Linked DNA regions of Homo sapiens: region 1 is linked to region 2. Evidence: fine-mapped expression QTL. A gene starts in region 2. The other region holds a variant in brackets. All regions are shown on one strand. Distances are between the middles of the regions.

The links. PIP is the estimated chance that this variant, and not a neighbour inherited with it, causes the effect.
Region 1: its variant is the best candidate, but not a certain one, in a credible set for the expression of ZNF688 in whole blood (TOPMed, PIP 0.65).

The regions. Positions count from the first base shown.
Region 1 is chr16:30,819,596-30,835,246 of GRCh38, forward strand. It overlaps LOC124903679 (a long non-coding RNA gene), which reads left to right. Exons shown (of 2, transcript XR_007065052.1): 2 at 1,262-2,289. It also overlaps the pseudogene ADISSPP2 and a transcript of BCL7C not described here. Among named protein-coding and RNA genes, the nearest start is that of ZNF629, 40 kb to the left of the region's middle. The variant A/C (reference allele first, on the strand shown) is at 8,529.
Region 2 is chr16:30,563,645-30,579,295 of GRCh38, forward strand. ZNF688 (zinc finger protein 688) reads right to left here and starts at 8,070. Exons shown (of 3, transcript NM_145271.4): 1 at 7,790-8,070; 2 at 7,366-7,479; 3 at 6,082-6,792. The coding sequence starts at 7,985. The coding sequence ends at 6,272. It also overlaps a transcript of ZNF785 not described here. RefSeq lists enhancers at 4,777-4,886, 5,846-6,411, 6,412-6,975 and a silencer at 7,838-8,077.

The DNA.
Region 1 (15,651 bases), 260 kb after region 2:
TTATTTTCTTCTCTTGCCCTCTTGCACTGGCTAGATCTTCCAGCACTTTGTTGAATAAGAATAATAAGAATGGAAATCCCTTACATTTTATTTTCCAGTTGTCACTAATGGTACACAAAATTTACAGCTGAAAAACTGCAACTGATTTTTGTATATTGAACTTGTATCCTAGACAGAGCTAAATTCATTTATTAGTTGTAGTAGTTAGTTTTTTGGGTTTTTATTATTTTTTTTGAGATGGAGTCTCACTCTATCACCTAGGCTGGAATGCAGTGGCGTGATCTCAGCTCACTGCAACCTCCGCCTCTGTGGTTCAAGTGATTCTCCTGCCTCAGCCTCCCGAGTAGCTGGGACTACAGGTGCGTGCCACCACCCCCAGCTAATTTTTGTATTTTTAGTAAAGACAGCATTTCACCATGTTCGCCAGGATGCTTTCAAGCTCTTGACCTTGTGATCTGCCCGCCTTGGCCTCCCAAAGTGCAGGGATTACAGGTGTGAGCCATTGTACCCGGCCTAGTTTTTAAAAAATATATATCCTTTCCATCAGATAAAGAAATTCTATTTATTGTTTTTAATTTGTTAATATATTTTTAATTTCTTTTTATTTTTTATTTTTATTTTTGTAGATAGAGATGGGGTCTTATGGGGTCTTGCTCTGTTGACCAGGCTGGTCTTGATCTCCTGGTCTCAAGTGATCCTCCTGTCTTGGCCTTCCAAAGTGCTGGAATTACAGGCATGAGCCACCATGCCCATATATATACATATGGGCATATATATATATATATATATATATATATATATATATATATACATACACACACACACACACATATGGGCATATATATATATATATATATATACACACACACACACACACATGGGCATATATATATATACACATATGGGCATATATATATATAATTTCGTATCCACTGGAAGTTTTATTTCTTTAGGGTTCTATCCCAATCAGTCACTTAAAAACCAAGTAACACAGACCTGAGGGGTGAGAGGTGGGGACTGCACCTCCCTCCTACTCATTGTGGACAGCAGAGGAGAAGAGAGAGGAGCAGGAGAGGTGGCTGACGCCAGGCAGCAGCAGCAGTGATGGGGCCACGACGTCACAGAGCAAGCTCCATCCTCCCCCAGACCCTAGCTGGAGCTCCTGTGGGTTGGGGTGGGCAGTGGGGAGAACCCACCCCAGGCCCTCCCCATCCCTTCCCCAGACAGTCTCCTTGTGGGCTCAACCAATGTCTTCTGGCAGGAGCCTGAGGCACACGGAGAGGAGGAAGTGGAAGAGGAGGACGGGAGAGGCACGGTGGTGGCAGGAATGAAGGCAGAGGTGGGAGGCTGGCCAGGGCCACTCCACCCCACGCCCACCCCGGAGAGGGCCGAGGAAGCCACCATCACGCAGCGTGTCACGGGGACCAGGCGGGGTTTAAGGCTGAGGGCTCGGGGCGGGCAGGGCCTCCGGCCTCAGTCAAAGCCGTGCCAGTGGCTGTGCTGCGAGTCTTATTCCAGCGCGGCGCCCGAGCCCTTGACACCGTCCAGCAGGTGGGCATGCCGTGGTGTCGGCCCCTGGCGCCAGCCTGCACTGCCACGCTCACACAGGCGCCGGCGCCACCTTCGCAGGCTGGCAGCATCGCGGCTTTGAGGACACCCTCTTTGTGCGCTGAGTACTCGCACTTGACACTGTAACCTTCAGGGACAGGAACAACGCTGAGGAGCTTGACATGCAGAGGCTGGGAACAGGTGCCTCACGGACGTGCTTGCTCACTGGGCGGGGGAAGAGTGAAGGTAATCTCATACCTGCGCAGGATCTTCAGGAAGCCAACCTTGACCAGAAAGCTGCTGTCGCTGTCCTGGGTGGCCATGACCACCGAGTCATGAAGCCTCTCATCAAAGCAGACGTGGCTCTGGGAGTATTACAGGTCGAGAAAATGTGGGTCGTGACCAACTCAGTATACCACTGGAGGCTATATGAGTAAACAGAAAACTGTTCTCATGAAAGCAGGATGTTGGAAAACTGAGGGCTGCATCTGCCCACAGAGGGAGTGCTGAGAGCAGTCACGCCCCAAGCGCAGTGTTCCTTGTGATTACCTATAGGAACATCTGAAGCCTGTTGTACAAAGAAAGCAATTATGTGTACCTGTGATAAATCAAGCAACTGACCAACCGTTACCTCTCCCTCCCTGCTCTTTCTACCTAATAAATACGAAGGGCTGTGGAAGCTCAGGGCTGCCCTTGTTCACTAGAAGCAAGGAGCCCCCTGACCCCTTCTTTCAAAACAGATCTTTTTGTCTTGGTCTTCATTTCTGCATTCATCCCCCTTCGTTCACACCTGTAGCAACCGACAGCAACATGGGAGCCCTCTGTATCGTGGCCTGCCGCAAAGCAGATACTCCTCCGGACTCTGGGCTTGTTGCCGTTGTTGGCTGCAGCCATGGATGCCCTCCCTGCCACACAGCGCCTGCTGGACACCGCCACTCACGCTTAGCAGCCTCCCGTGTTGCAGGGGCTGCAGTGTGCACCCGGGGCCGGGCAGGGCAGGCATGACCCAGGCTCGGCTGCGGGAGCTCAATGCCAAGCACGAGGAAGAATCGGCCTATATTTTTAATTTTTATTTTTTTTGAGATGGAGTCTTGCACTGTTGCCCAGGCTGGAGTGCAGTGGCACGAGCTTGGCTCACTACAAGCTCCGCCTCCCGGGTTCACACCATTCTCCTGCCTCAGCCTCCCTAGTAGCTGGGACTACAGGCACCCGCCACCAAGCCCGGCTAATTTTTTTGTATTTTTAGTAGAGATGGGTTTTCACCGTGTTAGCCAGGATGGTCTCGATCTCCTGACCTCGTGATCCGCCCACCTCAGCCTCCCAAAGTGCTGGGATTACAGGTGTGAGCCACCGTGCCCGGCCATTTTTTGTATTTTTAGTAGAGACGGGGTTTCACTGTGTTAGCCAGGATGGTCTAAATCTCCTGACCTCGTGATCTGCCCACCTCGGCCTCCTAAAGTGTTGGGATTATGGGCGTGAGCCACTGCGCCCAGCCCTAATTTTTTTTTTTTTTTTTTTTAGATGGAGTCTCGCTCTTGTCGCTCAGGCTGGAGCGCTGTGGTGTGATCTCAGCTCACTGCAACCTCTCCCTCCCGGGCTCCAGTGATCCTCCCACTCAGCTTCCCAAGTAGCTGGGACTATAGGCACATGCCACCCTGTCTGGCTAATTTTTGTATTTTTTGTTAGAGAAGGGGTTTCGTCATGTTGCCCAGGCTGGTCTCAAACTTCTGAGCTCGAGAGATCTGCCCACTTCGGCCTCCCAAGTGCTGGGATCACAGGTGTGAGCCACTGGGCCCAGCCTCGAATGGGTTTAATTTTTTTTTTTTTTTGAGATGGAGTCTTGCTCTGTTGCCCAGGCAGGAGTGCAATGGCGAGATCTCAGCTCACTGCAACCTCTGCCTCCTGGGTTCAAGCGATTCTCCTGCCTCAGCCTCCTGAGTAGCTGGGATTACAGACATGCACCACCACACCCGGCTAATTTTTGTATTTTTAGTAGAGATGGGGTTTCATCATGTTGGCCAGGATAGTCTCGAGCTCTTGACCTTGTGATCCGCCCACCTCCGCCTCCCAAAGTGCTGGGATTACAGGCATGAGCCACCACGCCCAGCCTTTTTTTTTTTCTTATGTTAAATAAACAACAAAGAACTGTGAAATAAAATATATAACAATACAAGGAAAAACATGAGAAACAGTTTTATTGGAAATATTCTAACACATTTTCTGAACAAATAATCAAAAAATAAATAAGGACATAGAAAATATGAACATATAAATTTCTTACCCTGAAAACAAACAGTACACCTTCTTTTCAAGTTTCATGGACAGTGGACAAAATTAAATAATTATTAAGCTACAAAGAATATTTTGGTAAATTTTGAAAAGTAGAAATTCTAGAAACCATTCTCAGATCAAAATGCAATACAACTAACAATAATGTAAAACATACCACTTAGAAATTTTGAAACGTAAGTAGCACCTCAAATTATCCTTAGGACAAGATGTAAATCAAGAGTTAAAAAAATTAAAAAACAGACGATTTAGAAAATAATTTAAAAAGTAGGATTAACAGCCAAAGCTATATGCAGAGGTAAAAACAGCATTAAATGCTTTTAGTGTCAAAAATAGAAGAAAAATGAAACGAATTAAGCATGCTTGCAAGTTGGGATTTTGGAAAGTAGTATAAAAACAGTTCCTCCAAAAATGGGAGAAATGGAATATTTGAAATAGAAAACAGAAAAAGCAAACACTCAGAGGCCTGAGAGGTGGTGGGATGAGTTTTCTGCCTGTGGACAGAGACACGCTTGGAGGCATCCCCGCGGGCTTGGTCCCCTGGCGTGTGTCATCAGGCCTGTCCCCTCTCACTCCTCGAGCCCCGCCTGGTGTCCTCTCCTGTTCCCAGGGCTGAAGCTCCTGTGTCTGTGTCATCACCGCATCTTGAACATCCTGTGCCTTGATTGTGGCACTCTACAGGTTTCTCTACAACTAATTCTTTTCACTTATGACTCACTTACTAGTAGACTTGACAGGACAGGAACCATGTCCTGATACTCATTGGATCCACAGGGCCCGGTAGGCATTGAGTTCTTAATAGACATTATGAGTGGAAGAAAATGAGCAGATGGACTCAAGCACTGATTCCTGAGTTGCATCTGGCCCCATTGCCCAGCCACAGGCTGGAAGCCCATGTCCTGAGGCCTGGAATGAATTAGTCCAACAATAAGAGGACTAACTATGCAGGATCCACCTAATAGATTGTTATGCAACCTATAATGGCTGTGTTGACAATGTCAATAAAATATGAGGAAGTGGGGCTTTGATTGTTTTTCTTTTTCCTTTTTTTTTTTTTTTTTTTTTTGAGATGAAGTCTCGCTCTGTCGTCCAGGCTGGAGTGCACTGGCGCTACCTCAGCTCACTGCAAACTCCGCCTCCCGAGTTCAAGTGATTCTCCTGCCTCAGCCTCCGGAGTAGCTGGGATTACAGACACCTGCCACCACACCCGGCTAATTTTTGTAGTTTTAGTAAAAACAGGGTTTCACCATATTGGCCAGGCTGGTCTCGAGTTTCTGACCTCATGATCCACCCACCTCGGCCTCCCAAAGTGCTGGGATTACAGGCATGAGCCACTGCACCCGGCCTTTTTTTTCTTTTTTTTTTTTTTACTTTTTTTTGAGATGGAGTCTTGCTCTGTCTGCCAGGCTGGAGTGCAGTGGCATGATCTCGGCTCACTGCAACCTCCGCCTCCCGAGTTTAAGCGATTCTCCTGCTTGGGCCTCCCAAGTAGCTGGGATTACAGGCGCCCGCCACCATGCCTGGCTAATTTTGTATTTTTAGACCATGTTGGCCAGACTAGTCTGATTTTTTTTCTTATATTTCCTCTTTTTACTGAATAATCAAAGATTTCTTGTGTGAAATGGAAAATAGTCTTCTCCTCAAGTCCCAGTTCAAACGCCATCTTCTCTGAGGACCGACCCTGATTTCTCCAACCAGAAACACTCTGGCCTTTCCTGGGCTCCCAGAGCACCTGCCCCTCCCTCTGGTCTCTTACAATTTCTGCCTTTGGTTATCTGTGTCCTGCCAAGGGGCTGTCAGCACCCCATAGGCAGGACTGCATACTTCCTGGATGCCTGCACCCCAGGATGTTCATTCCGACTTGAACCCACCCTCTATGGGCTGTGCGGGGTGGGAGGGGACAATATACAGGTTTGAATGAGCACTGGCCGGAATGACAGAGACCACAGTGAACTCAAAGCATGCCAGGGCAGAGGATTATGGTGCCCAAACAGACTCCAGCAAGCCTTGGGGACCAACCTGTGCACACTCACACCTGCTGTGTTATACCTGGCTGGGAAAAGGTCCCGGGAGCAGGTTGTATAGCTCTAGCTACAATGAGGCAGGGAGACATGGGTTTGCTGTCACATCACCAGGGGCTGGTAAAGGAGCAGGTTGTATAGCTCTGGCCACAATGAGGCAGGGAGACATGGGTTTGCTATCACATCACCGGGGGCTGGTGAGTGCAGTTGAGACAGGTGTTTTAATCATCGTTTTTGCACCCAGATGAACAAGGAGAGGGCATTCAGGCATGGCGACCCGCCTGAGCCACCTCCAGGGGCAAGAGATGAGCAGATTTACTTCAGAAAGGACAACAGCATCAGCCACTGCCACAGCCCCCCCCAGATCATCTGTACTGGCTGTCAGAACAGTCCTGCTGAAACGCCAATCACACCTGTCATTCACTGCTCTGCCCAAGACTCTTCAGTGGGCTCCCCAGCGCTAAGCATTTGGCCTGACACTCCAGGCGCCATGTGCCCTGGTCCCCACCTACCTCTCCACTGCAAATTCTGGCCATACACCCCTGCACCCCCAAACAGTGCACTCCCATCTCAGTCCACATTCTCCCCTTACAACATGATTCATCCAAGACCATGGATTCGTGGCCTTAAGTTTACTTCTGGTCTGGACTTCTGTGTCAGCTCCAGAGTATAGTTGTCTCACTGACCCCTTCACTTGGGTGCCAGAGAACACTGGATATTCCAGACCCCTCAAACTCAACGAATCTAACACCTCCCCCCACCACCACCCAACCCCTTACTCTGCTTGTCTTCCCTGTATTAAGTCAACATCACCATTCCCCCGGATGCTCCGGTGGCTCTCAACTCTGCCCTTTCTGACTGTGCGTTCAATCCACCACTAAATCCTGCTGATTCTACCTCCAATGTTTTTATTTTATTTTAGAGACAGGGTCTTACTCTGTTACTGAGGCTGGAGTGCAGTGGCACAATCATGGCTCACTGGAGCCTCAAACTCCTGGGCTCAAGTGATCCTCCCACCTCAGCCTTCCGAATAGCTAGGACTATAGGTGCACAGCACCATGCCTGGCTAATTCTTACTTTTTTTTTTTTTTTTTGAGACGGAGTCTCGCTCTGTCACCCAGGCTGGAGTGTAGTGGCTCGATCTCGGCTCACTGCAAGCTCCACCTCCCGGGTTCACGCCATCTCCTGCCTCAGCCTCTCCGAGTAGCTGGGACTACAGGCGCCCGCCACCATGCCCGGCTAATTTTTTGTATTTTTAGTAGAGACGGGGTTTCACCGTGGTCTCGAACTCCTGACCTCGTGATCCGCCTGCCTTGGCCTCCCAAAGTGCTGGGATTACAAGTGTGAGCCACCGCGCCCAGCCAATTCTTACTTTTTTTTTTTAAGAGACAGGGTGTTGCTATGTTGCCCAGGCAGGTCTCAAACTCCTGGCCTCAAGCGATCCTCCTGCCTTGGCCTCCCAAAGTGTTGGGATTACAGACGTGAGCCACAGCACTTGGCTTCCAATGTTTCTCTTACCTCCATCCATTCCCTCCCCATGTATGTCACAACCCTAATCTAAGCCACATCTCCCACCTGGACTACACGAGGGTCTCCCTGCTTCCTCATGTGTGCCCCTATAAGTGCATTCTCATACAGTAGTCACGGTGATCTTATCCGTAAACTGAATCATGCCACTACACTGAAGCTGGGATGAAATCCAGGCTTGTAGTTTTAAGGAGCTTCCAGCGGCCAAATCTGGGACAATCTGAGCACCAAAATAATTAAGATTAATAACTAATTATAAAATTTATTGGAAAATAATAGAAATCCAAGAGTCCCTATGAATAGTGAATCTAAAATAAGTGGACAGAAGAATGCCAAGTGTTGACTAATAAATGTGGAGGGAGTCCTGGGGTTGAGTTACTATTCTGTAACCATCGTGATTCTTAGGCAAGAATCATCAATAGGTGTTAAATCTCATCTATTTAACTTTTGATGTGGAATAGGATATAGTCATGGTTATAAAATACCTCCTCATAGATTACTTGTTACAAGGGAAAAATAGTAACTCTAGATTGGAGAAATCAAATAACCTTGACTTGGTGATCAAAATTAAAATCACCAAGGAGGGGCTGGGTGTGGTGGCTCACGCCTGTAATCCCAGCACTTTGGGAGGCCGAGGCAGGCGGATCACCTGAGGGCAGGAGTTCAAGACTAGCCTGGCCAACATGGCGAAACCCAGTCTCTACTAAAAAATACAAAAATTAGCTGGGCATGGTGGTGGGTACCTGTAATCCCAGCTACTAGGGAGGCTGAAGCAGGGAGAATTGCTTGAACCCAGGAGGCGGAGGTTGCAGTGAGCTGAGATCACACCACTGCACTGCACTCCAGCCTGGGCAACAGAGCAAGACTCTGTTTTAAAAAAAATCACCACGGAGGAACAGACAGACATGTGTGGCTTTAGCTGTTACACTGAGAAGGACACAGTATCACTTACACAGTCTTCCAGCCAGGAATGCATAATCCATATATTATAATGAAGAAACAAGTAGACAAACCCCAAATGAAGAATGTTCTATTAAGATAAAGGGGAAGATTGAATTCTTCAATAATATCAACACCATGCAGACAAAGAAAGGCTAACCATTCCCGATTAAGGGATACTAGAGAGAAACAACAACCGAATGC[A/C]ATACAGCATTCTTAGACTTGATCCTGTGCTAGAGGAGAAATGGCATCTAAAGGGTGTTACTGAGACAAGTGACAAAGTAACTTTGATACCACATTGGATCAGTGTGAAATTTAATGCAGTGGATAACTGTACTGTGGGAGGAAACACACTATTTAGGGGTAGAGGAACATGAGGTCTGCAACTTATTCTCAACTAGATTGGAATCAAAGTCATCTGTATATACCTTAAATAGAGAGATGGCCAGTGACAGAGAAATGGGGTAAAATGTGAACACCAGGTGAATTTGGGACAAAGGCTATGCAGATGTCCATTGTACTATTCTTGAGACTTTTCTGTAACTTTGAAATTATTTCCAAATAAAAAGTTAAACCAGGAAGGGCATGGTGGCTCATGCCTGTAATCCCTTTGGGGATTTGTAAGCACTTTGGGAAGCAGAGGAGGGTGGATCACTTGAGGTCAAGAGTTCGAGACCAGTCTGGCCAATATGGTGACACTCTCTCTCTACTAAAAATACAAAAATTAGCCAGGTGTAGTGGCAGGCACCTGTAATCCAGCTACTTGAGAGCCTAAGGTGGGAGAATCGCTTGAACCTCGGAGGTAGAGGTTGCAATGAGCCAAGATCACACCACTGCACTCCAGCCTGGGGACAGAGTGAGTCTGTGTCTCAAATTTAAGAAAAAAAAAAAAAAAAGTTAACCTAAAGCCTCCAGGCTCCTTACTGTGGCCCACCAGGCTCTGCCATCACCCCCGCCCAGGCCACCTGGCTTTATCTCAGCCCAAGCCCCTGCATGCTCAGCTCCCACTATAAGGATTGCCTTTCAGTTTCCCCACCATACCAAGCTCTTTCCCACCCTTGGGTCTTTTGTGCCTACTCTTGCTTGTCTATGGAATTCTCCTCCCCAATTCAGATCTCAGGGAGACAGTAATTGTCACTTTCTCACAATGACCTTCTTTGACCATCTTAATCTAATTTAGATCTACAATATGCTTTCATGGCACCAAGAACTTTTCCTTCATGACACTTATCACAGTTTATAAGAGTGTATTTTGGGGGATTGCATGACGTCTGTCTTCTCCAACAGCCTGGATGCTCCCTGAAGCCAGGAATCCTGTTTGTTCTACTCATGAATGCATCTTTCCACCCCAGCGGCTGGACCTGGCATGCAGCTGGGCATTCCATAGCCAGCTGACTGATTAAATGGTGAATTCCACTCTCCAAATTCACCCCCAGACTGTTGGTAGCGCTCAGAGAACACACTCTGTGGTCTATCTCTAGCCCTGAGAACTCATTCAAGAGGCTTCGTCTTTGAAGCCTTTCTAAATTCCCCACCACTATGCCACAATTTGGAACTAAGAGGCCATGGCAGGGAGGAGGTGGCACTTTGGAAGCAAGCCGTGTTAGGGGAGACATCACGAATGAGACCCAGAGAGGGGATGTCAAGGAGGCAGCTGGCTGCTCAGGCTGGCGCTCAGAGGGGCAGTCTGGGTTAGACTACTGAGAAAGGACCAACAGCTGGAGCTGCGCACATAAAGGAGATCTTTCACAGACCCGTGCAGAAGAAAGAGTCTAAGGACAGGGCCCAAACGAGGCTGACTTAGGGCTAAGCAAGAAAAACAGCCCTGGAAGCAGAGAAGCAGTGTCCAGAGAAGTAGCAATGATATTCAGAGACAGAAAAAGTTGTTACCAAAGGCAAGAAAGGAGGACATTTAGGCACTGAAACCATTTGGATTTTCTTCTTCCTTGTTCAAGATCAGCAGTCTGGCCCCTGGTGGTTGAGGCAGGCTGGTGAGGTTAAGAGCTTGGACTGTAAACTAGCCAGGCGCGGTGGCACAAGTCCATAGTCCGAGCTACTCGAGAGGCTGAGGCACGAGAATCACTTGAACCTGGGAGGAGGAGGTTGCAGTGAGCCAAGATTGTGCCACTGCACTCCAGCCTGGGTGATAGAGTGAGACTCCGGCTCAAAAAAAAAAAAAAAAAAAAAAAGAGCTTGGACTGTGTCTGAATCCTGACTTCATGATATATTAATATCAGTTGTGTGACCTTGGACAATGGACTTGACTTTCTGAGACTTCAAGCCCTCATCTGTACATTGTTGAGGGGCTACTGTCAGAATGACATGCGATCCTCTCTGGAAGGCCCTTTGAGCCATGTTTGGTCTACGGTCTAGGCAATGAATGACATCGTGGTGCATGCACAGTGCGAGAGGGTGCACTGGTTGCCGCTCACAGGAATGTGTCCTAAGTTCAGCCTTTCACCAATAGCAGTTTCAGACAAAAGTCAGAGCCCTCCAACCACCTTCTATTACATGTCCCCTTCCTCTGATGCGGCCCCTAATTAAAAACAAAAACAAAAACATATAGTGGGCAGGTTCCATTTAACATGATCCTTCCTCTAAAGCCTCTTTCTGAAAAATCAGTTTTCTCCCTGTCCCCAAGGGTGCCCCAAGTCATACCATGCCAGAGTTTGCCCTCATGACTACAATTAACCCTTAGCTGAGAGCATTTTGCACTGTTTTCCAGCTACCCATGGTGACACTCGCCTCAACACAGCTACCTTCTGTGGACATAGGTAAGTATTCTCAGGCCCCTTATTTGGGGATACCATTAACGTCTGCCCATAGCTTCCAACCATCCCATCTCTGAAGGCAAGAGAAGTGTGTGGCTACCATTTCACAGTTTAGAAAGCACTTCCCCAACACAGCCTCCCTTTCATCCTCACGACTGCCCGGTGAGGTAGATACAGCAGGTAACAGCTACAGTGGTTTGCATTTATCAAGCACTTACAATGTACCATGTTCTATGTTAAGCATTTTCATATGTGATCCCATTTAAACTCATGAAAACTCTATGAAGATGATGTCTGCCACAATCATCAATCAGTGCCACCACTTTACAGAAGAGAAAAATGGAGTGGTTCGTAACTTGCCTCAAATCAAAGAGGTGGTAAGTAATGGAGCCAGGATTCAAACCTCAGACTGACTACAGAGCCACACTCTTAACCCTCCTACAATATTGCCTCAAAAAGCAAGCATTGACTCCCCACACATTATTCTATCCATTAAATTGAAGCTCAGAGAGGTAAAGTGACTTGCCCAAGACCTCGCCACCAGGAACTGGCAGAGCTAGGATCCATACTTGGATTCTCTGGCTCTGAGGCCCCTGAAACCAAAAAGGCAAGATTCAATGTTCTAGGTAAAATTCCAGCAGCAGACTTGACTTGCCGATGCTGCTCAGTCCAGAGTAGTGTTTCTTTTTCTTTCTTTTTCCTTTTCTTTTGAGACAAATCTCCCTCTGTCACACAGGCTGAAGTGCAGTGGTGGGATGTCAGTTTGCTGCAACCTCTGCCTCCTGGGTTCAAGCAATTCTCCTGCCTCAGCCTCCTGAGTAGGTAGGATTTCAGGCACGCACCACCATGCCTGGCTAATTTTTGTATTTTTAGGAAAGACGGGTTTCACCATGTTGTTCAGGATGGTCTCGAACTCCTGACCTCGTGATCCGCCCGCCTCGGCCTCCCAAAGTGCTGGGATTACAGGCATGAGCCACCGCGCCCGGCCTTTCTTTTTCTTTTTTGAGATAGAATCTCACTCTGTCACCCAGGCTGGAGTGCACAATCTCTGCTCACTGCAACTTCCACCTCCTGGGTTTAAGCGATTCTCCTGCCTCAGCCTCCCGAGTAGCTTGGACTACAGGTGTACAGCACCATGCCCGGCTAATTTTTTTTTTTTTTTTGTATTTTTAGTAGAGATGAGGTTTCACCATGTTGGCGAGACTGGTCTTGAACTCCTGACCTCAAATGATCCAACCGCCTTGGCCTCCCAAAGTGCTGGGATTATAGGCATGAGCCACTGTGCCCAGCCCCAAAGTAGTGTTTCTATGCAGGAAATCCCTTCTGGAATTTATCAGGAAATCTGTATGTTCTTCTGAATCCCAAAATCGATCAGTCAAGAAATTGGGAAAATGGGGAAAAGCATTATAATTCTCCTGTGAGAATTAATGCTTAACAATCAACATAGAGGCATTCCTGGCTTAAAGAAATCCACTGATGCCAAATTGAAAGCAAGAGAAGGCAACGTTGACACACAGAGTCTAAAGTTAAGGTACTGTAATCCCGGTGCTCTGGGAGGCTGAGGCGGTTGGATCATTTGAGGTCAGGAGTTCGAGACCAGCCTGGCCAACATGGCAAAACCGTGTCTCTACAAAAAATACAAAACTTAGCCGGGCATGGTGGCATATGCCTCTAATCCCAGCTACTCGGGCGGCTGAGGCACAAGAATTGCTTGAACCCGGGAGGTGGAGTCGAGATCGCACCACTGCACCTGAGCCTGGGAGCTGCAGCAAGACTGTCTCAAAAAATAAATAAATAAAGTTAAGGTAGACATTTCCAGAATATGGGATAAGAGTACCTAGGAGATAAGTAGTCAAAATACTTTTTGTAGCTGTTGACACACTAAAAGTATATTTGTGGCTGTACCTGTTGTTAAGAGCGAGTCATTCCCACAAATATTAATGTTGACGTGCACTGTGTTTTATACAAATCCTACAAATGATGTTCTAATAAATAACAAGTTTTGGAAACACATAAGTCCTTAAATTGGCAATTCTCTCCCTCTCTCTTTTTTTAAGAGACACGGTCTTGCTCTGTTGCCCAGGCTGGAGTGCAGTGGTGCAATCATAGCTCACTATAGCCTCAAACTCTGGGCTCAAGTGATCCTCCTGCCTTGCCCTCCGAAAGTGCTGGAATTACAGGCATGTGCCACCACACTCAGCCTAAACTGGCAATTTCAACTCGTGATTCTGTGTAGTGTTGTTAATCTTGTCAAATATTTGAACATTTTGTTATTTAAATACTACCCAACAATGTTCATTGGCATCTTCCAGTTACTGAATATTTGCTACGGCCTACAGATCTTTGTAACTACTACTAAATGTGTATTTCTTATTTATTAAAAAATACAGAAAGTGGCCGGGCATGGTGGCTCACGCCTGTAATCCCCGCACTTTGGGAGGCTGAGGTGGGTGGATCACCTAAGGTCAGGAGTTTGAGACCAGCCTGGCCAACATGATGAAACCCTCTCTGTACTAAAAATACAAAAAATTAGCTGGGCATAGTGGCACGTGCCTGTAATCCCAGCTGCTAGGGAGGCTGAGGCAGGAGAATCACTTGGACCCGGAAGGCAGAGGTTGCAGTGAGCCGAGATCACACCACTGCACTCCAGCCTGAGTGACAAGAGCAAACCTCCGTCTCAAAAACAAACAAACAAACAAACAAACAAAAAAAAAAAACACAGAAAGTTATGAAAAATACAGAATAACATGCTTTCAGGAATTCCCCCAAATCCCATTTTTTCATTCCCAACTCCTGAAGATTAGTTTCCCTTTTGGGAACTTGGAAATCTTAGCCCAGAGGAACTGGATGAACTTCCCAGACAACCCAGTGGGATGGCAAATGGAGAGAGGTCATCCTTGTTGGCCTCCAGGAAGGCTCTACACAGGAGCTGGTCCTGGAATGGAGCTTCCTTCACCAACATCACCCTGGTGACGACTGAGAAAAGGTCATTCCAGAATTCCATGGGCTGAACCTAAAGCATTGGCTTGAAGCGTGAAATTTCTGTCATCTCAATCATTGGTACGAATGTTGACTTTCATCCCAGGGAGTATCTACTCACTTCAGTGTAGAAAGCGTTTTCTGTAATTCACCAGAGAAAAATGAATGCTCTCCATAAATGGAGGCCCTGTTAACCCACGGCCTTAACCCCGCTGTGTCCCAGCACAAGAAGTGGTACTGCATTGCTGACTTTGGGCAGGTTCCTTAACCTCTCAGAGACTCAATTTCTCCATCTGCAAAATGCAGATAATGAGAATATCCATGCCACAGGGATGCAGTGAGAACTAAATTACATCAGTCACAATGCCTGGTACAGAGTAAACCCTTGATAAATGGGAGGCGTTATTATTTCCTAGTACAACAGACCCAACGGTGAAGTCAGGAAGTGAGAGCTTGGTGAAGGGCCTTGGAACCACCCAAAAGGCTCACTCGCGCTGCTTCTCGGGCTAGGATTTTCCAGGTAGGTTAGGCCACCAGCTCAGGGCTGCGCCAGAAGTCTCCACGCCTCCACCCGAGGCGGGCGCCTGGGCTGAAAGGCCGCTTGTCCACATGGGTTCCCAGGTTGGCCTGCTAGGCTGACACCCTGGTGGAACCACTTGCCGTATGTCCTCGGGCGCTGGAGGTCTCCCAGCGCTGGCATACATAAGCCCTGGCGTGCGGGGCGGCTTCTGCGCTGGGGTCTCTGCGCGTGCACGGGCCTCAACATATGCATGGACGTCCAGGTGCCACGTGGGCATCTCGTGGTGCTGCAGAAGGCGGGAGGCCGGCGGGTCCCCTGCGCTTGTCCCCGCCACGGCCCTTGCCCGCTGTGGACCCGGAGGCTCAGTGCCGGCAGGACTCGGGACTCGGCGCCTCTCCCGGGGTGGCAGGCGCCTCGCATGGCACACTCAGACCGCTGGGAGGGTGGCCGCATGGGTGCGTGAGGAGGTGGGCGAGGCAGCCCAGTGCACCCCTCCCCTAGGCCTCTAGCAAGGCGGCCTCAGGCACTGGATGTGGTCCGAGTTCTGCCCTAAGCCCTTCCCATGCATTCGGGCGCCAGTGGCGAGCCAGATGGGTGCTGTGGCCTTAGGTTCGGGCAGGTGTGGGGCCGCTCGCCCTCCGATGTTACCGCGGTGGGTGAGCTGGGAAGCTCTTTCCGCCCTCGGGGCACAGGTAGTGGCTGGATCTTGGGGCAGCCAAGGGAGGCTTTAGGGGTCTTGGCTTGCTTGGGGAGCCCACTCACCTCCCCTTACCCTGGGGGATTGTTCTGGGTGCCCTCGGGGCCTTGCTGCCTCCCCCGGGAGCTCTGGTGTCCGGCACCGCCATGGAACTGGGCCGGACATTTGTCCGGAGGCCCCTCCTGGGCAGGAGCCTCCTGAGGGGCTCTGTCTTCAGCCCCTTCTCGTGAAGGGCTCTCCTCGTCATTCTCACTCCCGAATCCTGTACGGAGAAAAGAAGAATCTGGGTAGTGTTTCCTCTTCTCCCCACCTCACTGAGTTTCCACCAACTTGTCCCATTTATGACTTCCAAATGGCGCA
Region 2 (15,651 bases):
CCCCATCTCTATGAAAAATACAAAAATTAGCGGGGCATGGTGGCATGCACTTGTAATCCCAGCCACCCAGGAGGCTGAGACAGGAGAATCGCTTGAACCTGGGAGGCGGAGGTTGCAGTGAACCAAGATCGTGCCATTGCACTCCAGCCTGGGCAACAAGAGCGAAACTCCATCTCAAAATAAATAAATAAATAAATGTAAAGAAAAATATAAATGACAGACTATGATAAGTACTAAAAATAAGAGGGTTGTTTAGGGGTCATGTAATGGGGGGTTGTTCAGATATCTAGGAAGTGTGTGAAATTGCCCAGGATGGGTGACAAACGCTTCACAAAGGGTCCCCTGTAGCATCTCTCACCGCTGTCCCCTCTTGCTCAGGCCCTTGCTGAGTTAGGCCAGGGGCCTCCTAGCTGGCCTCTGGGCCTCCAGCCTTTTGCCTTTGCCGTCCATCTGTCACTGCAGCCTGGTGTAGTGAAAACAGGAAGAGCAGTGCCTGGGAAATAGGAGATTTGGGTTCCAGGTCTACTTCTGCCACTGACTCAGCTTCATGATCTTAATTATGTCCCCTCCTTGGGTCAGGTGCTGTGGCTCATGCCTGTAATCCCAGCACTTTGGGAGGCTGAGGTGGGTGGACCACGAGGTCAGAAGTTCAAGACCAGCATGGCCAACATGGTGAAACCTCGTCTCTACTAAAAATACAAAAATTAGCTGGGTGTGGTGGTGTGCATTTGTGATCCCAGCTACTCTGGAGGCTGAGGCAGGAGAATCACTTCAACCCAGGAGGCGGAGGTTGCAGTGAGCCAAGATCACACCACTGCACTCCGGCATGGGCGACAGAACAAGACTCTGTCTTGGAAAAAAAGAAAAAAATTATGTCCCCTCATCTCTCTGGCTTCAGCATTCTCAGAGTGTATTCTGCAGAACAGTATTCCCATGAGAAGCTCTATGGAAAAAAAACAAACAAACAGCCTTCTCCATTCCCCTTGACAGTCCCCTTTGGCAAATTTAAGGTTCAGGGCAGCCTTCAATAAAGAAATGTAGTCCGCCGGGGGGCATGGTAGCACATGTCTGTACCACATGTCTGTAGTCCCAGTGCTTTGGGAGGCTGAGGCAGGAGGATTGCCTGAGCCCAGGTGTTTGAGGCTGCAGTGAGCTACAATCATGCCACTGCACTCCAGCCTGGGCGACAGTGAGACCCCATCTCTAAAAAAATTTTTTCACATTAAAAAAAACTTTCCAGGCCAGACGCTGTGCCTCATGCCTGTAATCCCAGCACTTTGGGAGGCTGAGGCAGGTGGATCATGAGGTCAGGAGTTCGAGACCGGCCTGGCAAACATGGTGAAACCCTGTCTCTACTAGAAATGCAAAAATTAGCTGGGCGTGGTGGCACGCACCTGTAATCCCAGCTACTCAGGAGGCTGAGGCAGGAGAATTGCTTGAACCCAGGAGGCAGAGGCTGCAGTGACCTGAGATCCCAACACTGCATTCCAGCCTAGATGACAGAGTGAGACTCCTCTGTCTCAAAAAAGAAAAAAAAAATTGGAGATGGAGGGCTGTGATGGTTCTACAATAGTACTATTACACATTTTGCCACTGAACTGTACTGTACACTCAAAAATAGTCTAAATGATAAATTGTATATTATGTATATTTACCACAAAACAAAAACAAAGACAACCCAGTGATGTCCCAACATACTGAGAATCATGGAGCTGGGTGCAGTGGCTCACACCTGTAATCCCAGCACTTTGCGAGGCTGAGGCAGGGGGACTTCTTGAGCCTAGGAGTTTGAAACCAGCCTGGGCAACATAGTGAGACCCTGTCTGGAAAAAAAATTAGCTGAGTGCGGTGGTGTGCACCTGGGATCCCAGCTACTTGGGAGGCTGAAGTGGGAGGATGACTTGAGCCTGGGAGATCAAGCCTGCAGTGAACCATGATTGCACCATTGCACTCCAGCCCAGGAGAGAAAGCGAGACCCTGTCACAAAGAAAGAAGACGTGGTGTCGGGGTGGGGGTTAGAAAGAGAAGGAAGAAAAGATACTTAGCATCATGGGAAGCGAGAGCCTTGTGGGAGCGCCTCCCCCTCCCTAAGCCCATCTGTTAATCTTCTCCACCTGGTGTCTCAGCACAGCTACAGATGTCCTTTCTGCACCTTGTGGGAACTCATCCCTAGCTTGGAACATCCCACTTGCTGTTCCCTTTCTTTGGAAACGTCTCTACCCCCTACTCTCCCCGACCCCAGCCCCAAGCCTTTGAACCCTGCCCTTCCCCACTCCCTGTCCCCTAACCCTGTTCCCTGTGGCTCTTTCTCAACATGGCGCAGCCTCAGTATCGGTCTGCAGCAGGCTCTTTCTGCACATCGCTGTTCGAGCTCCTTCATAAGCCTTAGTATTTGCATTCGCAGTCCCTTCCTTCATTCGTGTTCTGGTTTATCACCTGTCTCTCCCTCGTAGAAAGTAAGCTCCAAGAGGGTTCCTGTGTCTGTTTCCCCTGCTATGTTCTGGCATGGAGAATAACAGCTAGTGCATGGTAAACGCTTAGCAGCTATTTGTTAAATGCGCCAATGAGAAAGAGAAATAGCAGACAGCACTTGCCCTGTGTCCAGCACCAGAGCTGGGGCTGCCCAGAGCAGCTTTATGCTTGACACACTTCACCTGGTTCTGCTCCTCCCTCACTGGCAGGGCCTCCTCTCTCCAGCTGCACCTTCTCCTTGGCCTCCCTGCTCCCCAGAACGGATCACCCTTGGCCTTCACACCCTCCTACTCCTGATCACCCCTTGGTGGGCATCAGGTCCCCTGGCTCCGGCTCTCCATACTGGAACCTCTGGGTCTTACTGGCTCATATTGGCAGTCACCGAGCTGCAGATTCTATGTCAGAAGCCTCTCGTGTCTTTCTTCCTAATTCCAAGGTCACCACCTTGGTCCCAGCTCCCAGTGACCCTCACTTAGGAAAAAATGCCCAACAGATCTCTAGTGTCTAGCTCTGTCCCCCAACCAGGTCACACCCACACTGCTTTGCAAAGATATCTTCTGATAGCACCTGGCAAACAGCACTGCACTTGCTCAAGAACTTTCTGTGGCTCCTCAGTGCCACAGAATGTATCTCAAGCTGCTCTGGTGGCCTCTGTGGCCCTCCCAGATTTGACCCCACTTCTCGGCTGCATCTGTCTCCCATTCTTCCTTATCTAGTTTTTTTGTTTTGTTTTGTTTTTGTTTTTGAGACAGAATGTCTCACTCTGTCGCCCAGGCTGCAGTGCAGTGGCACGATCTCGGCTCACTGCAACCTCCACCTCCCGGGTTCAAGCGATTCTCCTGCCTCAATCTCCCGAGTAGCTGGGATTACAGGTGCCCACCACCATGCCCAACTAATTTTTGTATTTTTAGTAGAGACAGGGTTTCACCATGTTGGCTGGGCTGGTCTTGAACTCCTGACCTCAGGTGATCTGCCCGCCTCAGCCTCCCAAAGTGTCTTTTATTCTTTCTATGAAGCAAGACTCCTTTGCTGTTTCCTCTGCCTGAAAATCTCCCCCAACACCAATTCATAGGCTATGGGAAGCACAGCCATCTCCTCCCAGGAACATTTCCTGGCATATCACCAACCAGCCTAGGTGAGGTGGTGCCTCTGGGCTTCCTCTGTCATAGCGCCAATTAATCTCTTCCCACGTCGAACGTGGGCCCTGACTCAGCTGTATCACTGGAGCCCAGCACAAAAACCCACAGAGGCTTCAGGAGGGTGTTTGCTGAATGAATGAATGAATGGGGTCAGCTTTCGTCATCGTGGAATTCCCCTATTACCTAGCACAGTCCCTTCAACAGAAGGCACTCAACACACAGTCACTAAGTGCCAATTGTACCTTCTTTTTTGTTTTTCTTTTTGAGACAGAGTCTCACTCTGTCGCCCAAGTTGGAGTGCAGTGGCGCAATCATGGGTCACTGCAGCCTCAGTCTCCCTGGCTCAAGTGATCCTCCTGCCATAGCCTCTCAAGTAGCTGAGACTACAGGCACGCGCCACCACACCTGGCTGATTTTTGTTTTTGTAGAGATGGGGGCCTCACTATGTTGCCCAGGCTGTTCTCAAACGCCTGAGCTCAAGAGATCCTTCCATCTCGGCCTCCCAAAGTGTTGGGATTACAGGTGTGAGCCACCACGCCCAGCATGACTGTGCCTTCTAAGTAAAAACTGGCCAGGCGAGGTGCCTCACACCTGTAATCCCAGCACTTTAGGAGGCAAAGGTGGGAGGATCTCTTGAGCTCAGGAGGTCAAGGCTATAGAGAGCCATGTTAACACCACTGCACTCCAGCCTGGGTGACAGAGTGATACTCTATCTCAAAAAAATAAAAGAGAAAAGGAAAGGATAAGAAAAGGGGCACTTACTGGGACTCTTAGTTTTCTGCTCACACTCCCCAAGCAGGCTGGGCTGGGACCTGCATCCTGAGTTCCCAGCCCGTGTTTTCTGTCCAGATCTGACTTCTCAAAGGAAGTGGTAGAGACATCTGGGCTCTGTGTTCATTTCCACCCATGCTGCCACATGGGAGTGAAATCTTGAGAGCATCACGTTATCTCTCTGAGTCTCAGTTTACTTATCTGCAAACATGGTTATTGATATCCATGCCCTGGCTCCCTGGCAGGCTTCTTTACACTTTCTAAAGTGTAGACCATCCACAGTAATTCACTCTTTCAACAAATGTGTATTGCACAATTACTATGTCATACATCTTGTTAAAATGTCAGTCTCCACGGTAACCCTTTGAGGTAGATATTATTCATCTTCATTTTACAGAGGAGGCACTGAGACTCAGGAAGTTCACATGACTTACCAGCTGTGCCTGGGGTAAGTTGCAGAGACTAGTTTTTGTTTTGTTTTGTTTGTTTGAGACAGAGTCTCACGCAGCTGCCCAGGCTGGAGTGCAGTGGCGCAATCTCGGTTCACAGCAACCACTGTCTCCTGGGTTCAAGCAATTCTCCCATCTCAGCCTCCTGAGTAGCTAAGATTACAGGCACCCACCATCATACCCAGCTAATTTTTGTATTTTAGTAGAGATGGGGTTTCACCATGTTGGCCACTGGTCTTAAACTCCTGACCTCAGGTGATCTGCCCACCTCGGCCTCCCAAAGTGCTAGGATTACAGGCATGAGCCATGGCGCCAGCTTTTTTTTTTTTTTTTTTCTTCTAAGAAATGGAGTCTTGGCCAGGCGCAGTGGCACATGCCTGTAATCCCAGCACTTTGGAAGGCCAAGGTGGGTGGATCACCTGAGGTCAGGAGTTTGAGACCAGCCTGGCTAACATGTGAAACCCCGTCTCTACTGAAAATGCAAAAATTAGTAGGGCATGGTGGCGTGCACCTGTAATCCCAGCTACTCAGGAGGCTGAGGCAGGAGAATTGCTTGAACCTGGGAGGCAGAGGTTGCAGTGAGCTGAGATGGCGCCACTGTACTCCACCCTTAGTGACAGAGTGAGACCCTGTCTCAAAAAAAATAAAAGAAAGAAATGAAGTCTTGCTCTGTTGCCCAGACTGTAGTACAGTGGCACAATCATAGCTCACTGTAGCCTTGAACTCCTGGGCTCAAGCAGTCCTCCCACCTCAGCCTCCCAAGTGGCTGGGACCACAGGCACGATGTGCCACTATGCCTGGTTCATTTTTTTTTTTTTTTTTTGTAGAGATAGGATTTCACTATCTCTAGATAGTGATATCCTAGATATCTAGATATCGCTAGATAGCCTGTTGCTCAGGCTGGTCTGAACTCCTGGACTCAAACGATCCTCCCTCCTTGGTCTCCCAACAGAGGCTGGATTTGTGCCACCTGCATCTATTCTACTCCCATCCACTCCAGTGTCTGGGTCCCCTGCTGATGACAATTAGCCAGGGTTTGACCACGCCCTCCATGTAGGTCCCCTCCCCAGGCCCTGGTCCCCCTCAGCATCTGCATCTGAAATAGATAAGGAGTGGCTAGTTCCTGAGATGATATAAAGGTCTCTGTTGCACCTGATCTTCAGATAACACTTTGAAATGAGTCCAGGGTCTCACTCTCTTCTTTTTTTTTTTTTTTTTTTTTTTTTTTGTTAAACAAAAGACTGGGGAGATGGGTGGCAAGTCTAATCTATTCGAATCTTTACAGGCACTTTTCTTTTTACAAGTTGGAAACTTGAGGGATCCTTGAGGAAAGCCCAGGGCATGAATTTCAGTTCCGGAGTCCCCGACTCAGTGGCCCACCTCAGGGATCCGTCAGTCCTTCGTGCCAAGGTCAGGCTCAACTCCAGCCTGCGGTGCCGCTCAGCCGCACTCCTCGAAGATGTCTGGGTAGTGCCGGAAGAGCACAGGCGGGTCCCGGTCACCTCGGACGGGGGCCCGAGGCACAGCCCGGATCCCAGGCCTCCGGCCCCGCCGCCCCCCGGAGCAGGAGCGGTGGATCCACTGGTGCGCTTCCACTGCGAACTTCCTCTTGAAGCGCATGCCACACTCGGGGCAGGGGAAAGGCCGCTCCCCCGAGTGCATGCGCCTGTGGCTGACCAGCAGTGAGGGGTAGGTGAAGCGGCGGCCGCAGTCCGTGCACACGTGGCGCCGCTGGCCGGCCTGAGCATCCATGCTGGGTATGGGTGCCGGGGGCTGTGCTCCTGTGGTCGGGTCCCAGGCAGCATTTTTGGGTGGCTGTGCCCGTGCCGGGGCCACGCTAATAGCTGGGTCAGGGTTGCGTTCCACCAGCACTTCAGGACTCTCCTTCACAGGAGCCTTTCTAGGCCCTTTGGCTCTTGGGACTTCCTCCGGTTCCTCTTCCTTCCTGTTTGGGACATCTCCTGGGAAACCGGAATTAAGTTACACTTACAAACACTTTTGCACAGACTGTCTCAGGTTATAGAATGCTTTTCACTTAAGGCAGTGAGGGAAGTTCTGTCCAGTGATTAACACACAGGCTTTAGAACAAGGTAAACAGGATTCAGATCTCCTAAAAGTGCCTTATCTGAGCCTTGGTTCCTTATGCATCAAATGGGAATAATAATGGCTTTTGACTTCACAGCGTTACTGGTTTAGCTGAGTAGATGCATGTTAAGCACTTAGGAAGTGCTCAGGAAGCAGGGGCTATTATTTATTTATTTATTTATTTATTTATTTATTTATTTATTTATTTTTGAGACGGAGTCTCACTCTGTCACCCAGGCTGGAGTGCCTGGTTGGACTGGGCTCCCAGTCCTCACAGGACCGCTGTCCCATGTTCTGAAAACTTTGTACCAGGTCTGCCTTCTTTACTCCTCTAGTACCCAACACAGTTGAATTTCTTTAGGGATGCTGGAAGTGGGGGCCTGAAAAGAAACTCTGCTAGACAGGAAGCCCTGGAAAACCAAGTGGGGGGACCCGGGACTATCCCTCACCTCTCCGAGCTCCTCCCAGTCTTTCCCCCTTCTCAGGATCCTGGGCGGCGGGGCTCCAAGCCTCACTCTCCTGTTCCATCCAAGAGATGAGGGCTGGTTTGGGGCCTGGGAATCCTGGGAGAGAACAGGGATCACAGCGCGGGCCTGAGAGGCCATCGTGGGAAGATGGCATTCCCCTCCAGGCTGAGGGCACCCCCTCGGAGCTTATACTCAACCTGGAAGGGGCTGCAGTGCTGCTGCCTGAATGAAATGGATGCGGGTGAAAACACTCCCGAGGGGGTACCTGAAGCCCTGGGAACGGGAGGTGGCTGCTGGTGTTGGTGCAAGAGTGCGGGATTAGGGCTCACAGTCCTCTCGGCCCTTCTACATCATCTCCCCTGTGAACCCGGTGAAGGAGGAGGGGGCTCGGACCCGGGGCTCTCACCGAGCGCGCCCAGGTGGCCGTAGGTCTCCTGCATCACGTCCCGGTACAGAGCCCTCTGCGCGGGCCGCAGACAGCCCCACTCCTCCGGGGAGAAGTACACGGCCACGTCCGCGAAGCTCACAGTCCCGGGCTTCCTGCAACCAGGCCGGGTCTCCCCGGGCCTCGGCGCCAGGAGCGGGGCTGGGGGCGGCGCCATGGGGCCTCGCAGCCCCGATCGGCGGCCGCCAGGTCCCTGGAGCCGCCGCCTCCCCGCTCCCGGCCTCAGCTGTCGTTGTCCACAGGAAGGGCGGCCCCGCCCAGCCGTGGCGTCCGAACGCAGCCGAGGCAACCGAAGTAGCAGGGACTGGCTGCTAGGGATTCGAGGATTCTGATAGGGACAAATATAATTCCTCAGTGTTTATTCACTTCATGGCCGCTTGGACATAGACACCCGGGTTAAGGGACCCGGAAGGTGCCTTCTGAAAATATGGCGACCACCCTTCAATTGTCACAGGCTGCTCTTAAGGGCGCCATTATTTGACCATATCAAATATGGAGCCTTTCTGACTTCTCTGGCCTCATCGTCCCACTTGCCCTTAAATAAAGCCGCTTCGGCTGCTTTTTCTAGTGGGGGAGGCGGGGTGTCTGGGAAGTAGAGGAGAGGCTTCTTGCCTTCAAGAAAGATGTAAGGGCCCGAAGCTTCACTTACCCCTCTGTACCCGCAATACGCAACGGCCGATGATTGGCGACGATCCCGGAAGAAGCTGCGCGGTGATTGGCCTGGGACTGGCGGGGCATTTGAAGGGACCCCGCGGTCCTGAAGCCTCTGTTGACAGACTGGAGCGCAGCGGAGACCTCGGCATCTGCGGTGCTCGGGATTGTGTCCCCTACGGTCTCTTACCGTGCCTCCCGATGGCGGGAGCTGGAATTTGGTCCCCAGACCCCTTGGGAAGACGCGCACACCCTGGCAAACCATGTGTACACCCGCGGTAGAAGCAGGTGCGTGTTTTACAGTAGCTTAGCTGCGGAGTCCACCCAGCCCCTGGCATCCGCAGCTCGGCTCGCTCAGGCTCTAGACCGAAGCTGCAGGCGAAGGAACGTGCTTGGTGAGGATGGAATCGGAATGGGGAAGTTTTAAATTAAATAGTAATTGTTGCTAACATACATGAATTTATTTTTTGTTTGTTTTGAGACAGGGTCTTGCTCTGTGGCCCAGCAGTGCGATCCTAGCTCACTGCAGACTCGACCTCCCGGGCTGAAGCGATCTTCTCACCTCAGCCTCCCGAGTAGCTGGGACCACAGGCGCACACCCAATGCTTGGCTAATTTTTAAATTTTAAAACAGAGACAGGGTCTTGCTATGTTGCCCAGGCTGGTCTGGAACTCCTGGCCTCAAGCAATTCTCCTGCCTCGGCCTCCCAAAGTGCTGTGATTACAGGCATGCGCCACGGTTCCCAGCCATTTCTACTTTTTCTTTGAGAAGGAGTTTTACTCTTGTTGCCCAGGCTGGAGTGCAATGGCGCTATCTCGGCTTGCCCAGGCTGGAGTGCAATGGCGCTATCTAGGCTCACCGCAACCTTCGCCTCCCAGGTTCAAGCGATTCTCCTGCCTCAGCCTCCCAAGTAGCTGGGATTACAGGCATGAGCCACCATGCCCGTCTAATTTTGTATTTTTAGTAGAGACGGGGTTTCTCCATATTAAGTCAGGCTGGTCTCGAACTCCCGACCTCAGGTGATCCTCCCGCCTCAGCCTCCCAAAGTGCTGGGATTACAGGCGTGAGCCACGGCGCCCGGCCCTGCCATTTCTACTTATTTACGTTGTTCCAAATTATCAAAGATAGCATCAACTTTCAAATCCTAATTTTTTTTTTCCTGGGAAACCTTCCTCCTTTAGCCTTCAGTCTCCTCTCTAAACTGGGTTGGGCCTCAGTTCTTCTCATACCGGGTCTCCCCTTCCTGCTGTCCTGGGTTGTATCTTCCGCTTCCTAGATTTAAGGTCTTTATTTTTCAGCCAAGATGGGTCATCCTCATGGCTGGTGGCATTGGACTGTAAATACTAGTTGCCTTCATCCCCACATTTGGAATATACCTGCAATCATACAGGATGCAGAATACTGTTTGCTAAGCGTGGGGCTGGTTGCTGGAGATAACAAGCAAGGCCTACCAGGTCCCTGCTGTCATTCTGGCTCTGGATCTACTTGCTTGGCTCCCCTGCCAGCCCTAGTATATCGAGCCTTCCTTTTTATTCAATAGTGTTTTTTATTGCTGACTTTTCAGTCAAGATTTCTTTGTGTTTTCTGGCCTACCCTTGCTGTTTTTCACCTGAAATGCTTTTTGGCTTTTAGTGTGACTCCTGCTGATCTCATATGCATATGTTATTAATTGATTAATTATTAATTGTTAATAATTAAATATTATTAATATGCTTACATTATTACCTTGAGTTCTGGAACTGCCTCACTGCACTCCATGTGGTGAATACTGTAGAAATTATATAAGGAAAAATATATCCTTAGAAATGAGTATTTTTTAAATTTTGAAAATATTTAATTTAGGCCCAGCCCAGTTGCTCACACCTGTAATCTCAGCACTTTGGGAGGCTGAGGTGGGCAGATTGCTTTAGGCCAGAAGTTAGAAACCAGCATGGGCAACATGCTGAAACTCCATCTCTACTAAAAATACAAAAATTGGCCAGGTCTGGTGGTGCACACCTGTAGTCCCAGCTACTCAGGAGGCTGAGGCACAAGAATTCCTTGAACCCAGGAAGCAGAGGTTGCAGTGAGCAAGATCATGCCACTGCACTTCAACCTGCGTGACAGAGTGAGACCCCGTCTCAAAAAGAAAAAAAAATTGGGCTGGGCACAGTGGCTTGTGCCTGTAATCCCAACACTTTGGGAGGCCAAGGCGGGAGGATCACCTGAGGTCAGGAGTTCGAGACCAGCCTGGCCAACATGGCAAAACCCCGTCTGTACTAAAAATACAAAAATTAGCTGGGTGTGGAGTCGGACGCCTGTAGTCCCAGCTACTCAGGAGGCTGAGGCACAAGAATGGCTTGAACTCAGGAGGCAGAGGTTGCAGTGAGCCAAGATCACACCATTGCACTCCAGCCTGTGTGACAGAGCAAGACTCCATCTAAAAAAAAAAAAAACAAACAAAACAAAAAATATATTGATACACAAAATTTTTACATATTTATGGAGTTCATGTGATATTTTGCTTTTCTTCATACATAGAATGTACAATAATCAAGTCAGGATATTTAAGGTATCAATCACTTTGAGTATTTAACATTTCTATGTGTTGGGAAAATTTCAAGTCCTCTCTTCTAGCTATGGAAATTTACAGTACTTTGTTAACTACAGTCACCCTACTCTGCTATTGAACATTACAAGTTATCCCTTCTTCCTAAGTGTATGTTTGTACCCATTACCCAACTTCTCTTCATCCACCTCTCCCACCCACGTACACCCTTCCAATCTCTGGTATCATTCTACTCTCTACCTCCATGAGATCAACTTTTCTAGCTCCCACATGTAAGTGAGGACATGTGATATTTGCCTTTCTGTGTCTGGCTTATTCACTTAACATAATGACCTCCAGTTCCATCCATGCTGTAAACATGATTTCATTTTTTATGGCTTAAGTCCACTGTGTATATATATCATATTTTCTTTATTCATTTGTCCCCTGATCAACACTTAGGTTGATTCCATATCTTTGCTATTGTAAACACGGCTCTACAGTAAACACGGAGATGCAGGTTATCTTTTTTATATACTGATTTCTTTTCCTTTGGATAAATTCCAGGTAGTGGGATTGCTGGATCACATGGTAGTTCTTTTTTTTTTTTTTTGAGACGGAGTTTTGCTTTTGTTGTCTAGGTTGGAGTGCAATGCCCTGGTCTCGGCTCATTGCAGCCTCTGCCTCCCAGGTTCAAGTGATTTTCCTGCCTCAGCCTCACAAGTAGCTGGGATTACAGGCACCCTCCATCACACCCAGCTAAATTTTGTATTTTTAGTAGAGAAGGGGTTTTGCCATGTTGGCTAGGCTATTGTGAACTTCTGACCTCTGGTGATCGACCAGCCTTGGCCTCCCAAAGTGCTGGGATTACAGGTGTGAGTCACCATGCCCAGCCCACATGGTAGTTCTGTTTTTGTTTTTTTCAGACATCTCCATATTGTTTTCAGTAGTGGCTGTACTAACTTACGTTCCCACCAACAGTGTGTAGGAGTTCCCTTCTCTTTTTTTTTCTTTTTTTTTTTGGAGAAGGAGTTTCACTCTTGTTGCCCAGGCTGGAGTGCAATGGCACAATCTTGGCTCACCACAACTTCTGCCACCAGGGTTCAAGCGATTCTCCTGCCTCAGCCTCCCAAGTAGCTGGGATTACAGGCGCGTGCCACCACTCCTGACTAATTTTGCATTTTTAGTAGAGATGAGGTTTCTCCATGTTGGTCAGGCTGATCTTGAACTCCCGACCTCAGGTGATCCACCCACCTCAGCCTCCCAAAATGCTGGGATTACAGGCGTGAGCCACTGCGCCCAGTCAAGAGTTGCCTTCTCTTAGCATCCTTGCCAATACCTGTCATGTTTTGTCTTCTTAATAACAGCCATTCTAACTAAGGTACGATAATATCTCATTGTGTGCTTTTTTGTTTTTGAGTCAGTCTCGCTCTGCAGCCTAGGCTGGAGTGCAGTGGCGCAACCTCAGCTCACTGCAACCTCCCCCTCCTGGGTTCAACCGATTCTCCTGCCTCAGCCTCCTGAGTAGCTGGGATTACATACGTGCACCACCATGCCCAGCTAATTTTTTTGTTTGTTTGAGATGGAGTCTCGCTCTGTTGCCCAGGCTGGAGTGCAGTGGCGCGATCTTGGCTCACTGCAAGCTCCGCTTCCCGGGCTAACGCCATTCTCCCGCCTCAGCCTCTGGAGTAGCTGGCACTACAGGTGCCCGCCACCACGCCGGCTAATTTTTTGTATTTTTAGAAGAGATGGGGTTTCATTGTGTTAGCCAGGATGATCTCGATCTCCTGACCTCATGATCCACCCACCTCGGCCTCCCAAAGTGCTGGGATTACAGGCGTGAGCCACCGCGCCCAGCCACCCAGCTAATTTTTGTATTTTTAGTAGAGATGGAGTTTCACCATGTTGGGAAGGCTGATCTCAAACTCCTGACCTCAGGTGATCCGCCCACCTCGGCCTCCTAAGCTGCTGGGATTATAGGCGTGAGCCACCAGGCCGGCTTCATTGTAGTTCTGATTTGCATTTCCCTGATGATTAGTGGTGTTGAGCATTTTTTCATGTACCTGTTGACCATCTGCATGTTTTATTTTGATTCTCCTTCTATTATGATTATTATTATTAATTATCATTATTATTGAGACAGGTTCTCACTCTGTCACACAGGCTGGAGTGCAGTGGTATGATCACAGCTCACTGCAGCCTCAACCTCCCTGGGTTCAGGTGATCCTCCCACCTCAGCCTTCAAGTCGTTGGAACTAGAAGTGTGCAACACCATGCCTGGCTAATTTTCGTTTTTGTAGAGATGGGGTCTCTCCATGATACCCAGGCTGGTCTGGAACTCCTGGGCTCAAGTGATCCTCCCACCTCAGCCTCCCAAAGTGCTAGGATTACAGGTGTGGACCACCATGCCCAGCCTATTATTGTCATTTTGAAACAGAGTCTCACTCTGTCACCCAGGTTGGGGTGCAGTGGCAAGATCAAAGCTCACTGCAGCCTGGAACTCTTGGGCTCAAGTGATCTATGCTCCCACTTCCACCTCCTGAGTAGCTAAGACTACAGGTGAGTGGCTATTTGGATTCTCCTTTTAAACAGAGTAGCAACTTGAACCAAAAATACTTTTGTTTCTTCAGATCCTATGTTGTAAATCACTTCTCTTTGAACTAAGTATGCAGAAGACTTAAGAAGATGAAGCTGAACAATAAAAATATTAACTAAACAGATTGAAAGAAACTTTTTTTTTTTTTTTTTTAGATGGAGTCTCGCTCTGTCGCCAGGCTGGAGTGCAGTAGTGGGATCTTGGCTCACTGCAACCTCCAACTCCCTGGTTCAAGCGATTCTCTTGCCTCAGCCTCCTGAGTAGCTGGGATTACAGGCACGCATCACCACACCCAGTTTTTGTATTTTTAGCAGAGACAGGGTTTCACCATGTTGGCCAGGATGCTCTTGATCTCCTGACCTCGTGATCCGCCTGCCTTGGCCTCCCAAAGTGCTGGAATTACAGACATGAGCCACTGCACACTGTACCCGGCCTGTGGTTTTTTTTTTTTTTTAAGACAGAGTCTCACTCTGTGGCCAAGGCTGGAGTGCAGTGGTACAATCTCGGCTCACTGCAACCTCTGCCTCCCGAGTTCAAGCAATTCTCGTGCCTCAGCCTCCCAAGTAGCTGAAAACAGCACAACCTGCTAATTTTTGTATTTTTAGTAGAGATGGGGTTTTGCCATGTTGGCCAGGCTGGTCTCAAACTCCTGGCTTCAAGTGATCCACCGTCCTCGGCCTCCCAAAGTGCTGGGATTACAGGTATGAGCCATAGCGCCAGGCCTGAAACAAACTTTCAAGTAAGACTAAAACTGTTCCGTGTAGCTGATGAGTTGTTTTTCCTGCCACTCATTATAAAAATACAAAAATTGGCCGGGCACAGTGGCTAACACCTGTAATCCTACCACTTTGGGAGGCTCAGATAGACAGATCACTTGAGCCCATGAGTTCAAGACCAGCCTGGGCAAAACCCCATCTGTACAAAAAATACAAAAATTAGCTGGGCATAGTGGCATATGCCTGTAGTCCCAGTTACTCAAGAGGCTGAGATGAGAACGAGAAACACCTGAGCCCAGGAGGTCGAGGCTGCAGTGAGCCGTGACTGTGCCACTGCATTCCAGCCTAGGCTATAGTGAGACCCTGTCTCAAGAAATAACAAGAACAACAAAATGCTCTTGCTTTCAAATTATTTTATTGCCCATCAAATTGTAAATGTTTCTTCAAGACTCTTGATCAGATAATTATGAGAAGTCACACAACATACAGGAGATGACTGGGCTTCAATCGACTTTACTTGTCAATAACAGAGTACAACTGAACTTTAAGTGGGAGCTGAATTTCTTTCTTTCTTTTTTGAAACAGAGTTCCACTCTTGTTGCCCAGGCTGGAGTGCAATGGCACGATCTTGGCTCACTGCAACCTCCGCCTCCTGGGGTCAAACGATTCTCCTGCCTCAGCCTCCCGAGTAGCTGTGATTACAGGCATGTGCCACCATGCCTGGCTAATTTTGTATTTCTTTTTTTTTAGTAGAGACAGGGTTTCTCCATGTTCGTCAGGCTGGTCTCAAACTCCTGACCTCAGGTGATCTGCCCACCTTGGCCTACCAAAGTGCTGGGATTACAGGTGTGAGCCACTGCGCCTGGCTCTTTTTTTTTTTTAATAGTGTCTTGCTGTTACTCAGACTGAAGTGGCGCCATCATAGCTCACTATAGCCTCAAACTCCTGGGCTCAAGCTATCCTCCTTCTTCACCCTCCCCCACCATGCTCGGCTAATTTTTAAAATTTTTAGTAGAAATGAGGTCTTGCTGTTTTCCAGGCTCGTCTCAAACTCCCAATCTCATGCAATCCTCCTGCCTCAGCCTCCCAAAGTGCTGGGATTACAGGTGTGAGCCACTGTACCCAGCTGAGAGCTTAAGTTTCTTGCATAAAACTCAGCTGTATGCTGAAGTGTTTAGAAGTGAAATGTAATGATGTCTGCAACTTACTTTGAAATACATTAATAAAATGGATAAATGAATGGATAGAGGGATGGATAGGCAGATTGACATGTGTAAAACAAATAGAGAAAAATGTTATTTGTAGAATCTAGGTGATGCTAAAGGCCACACAG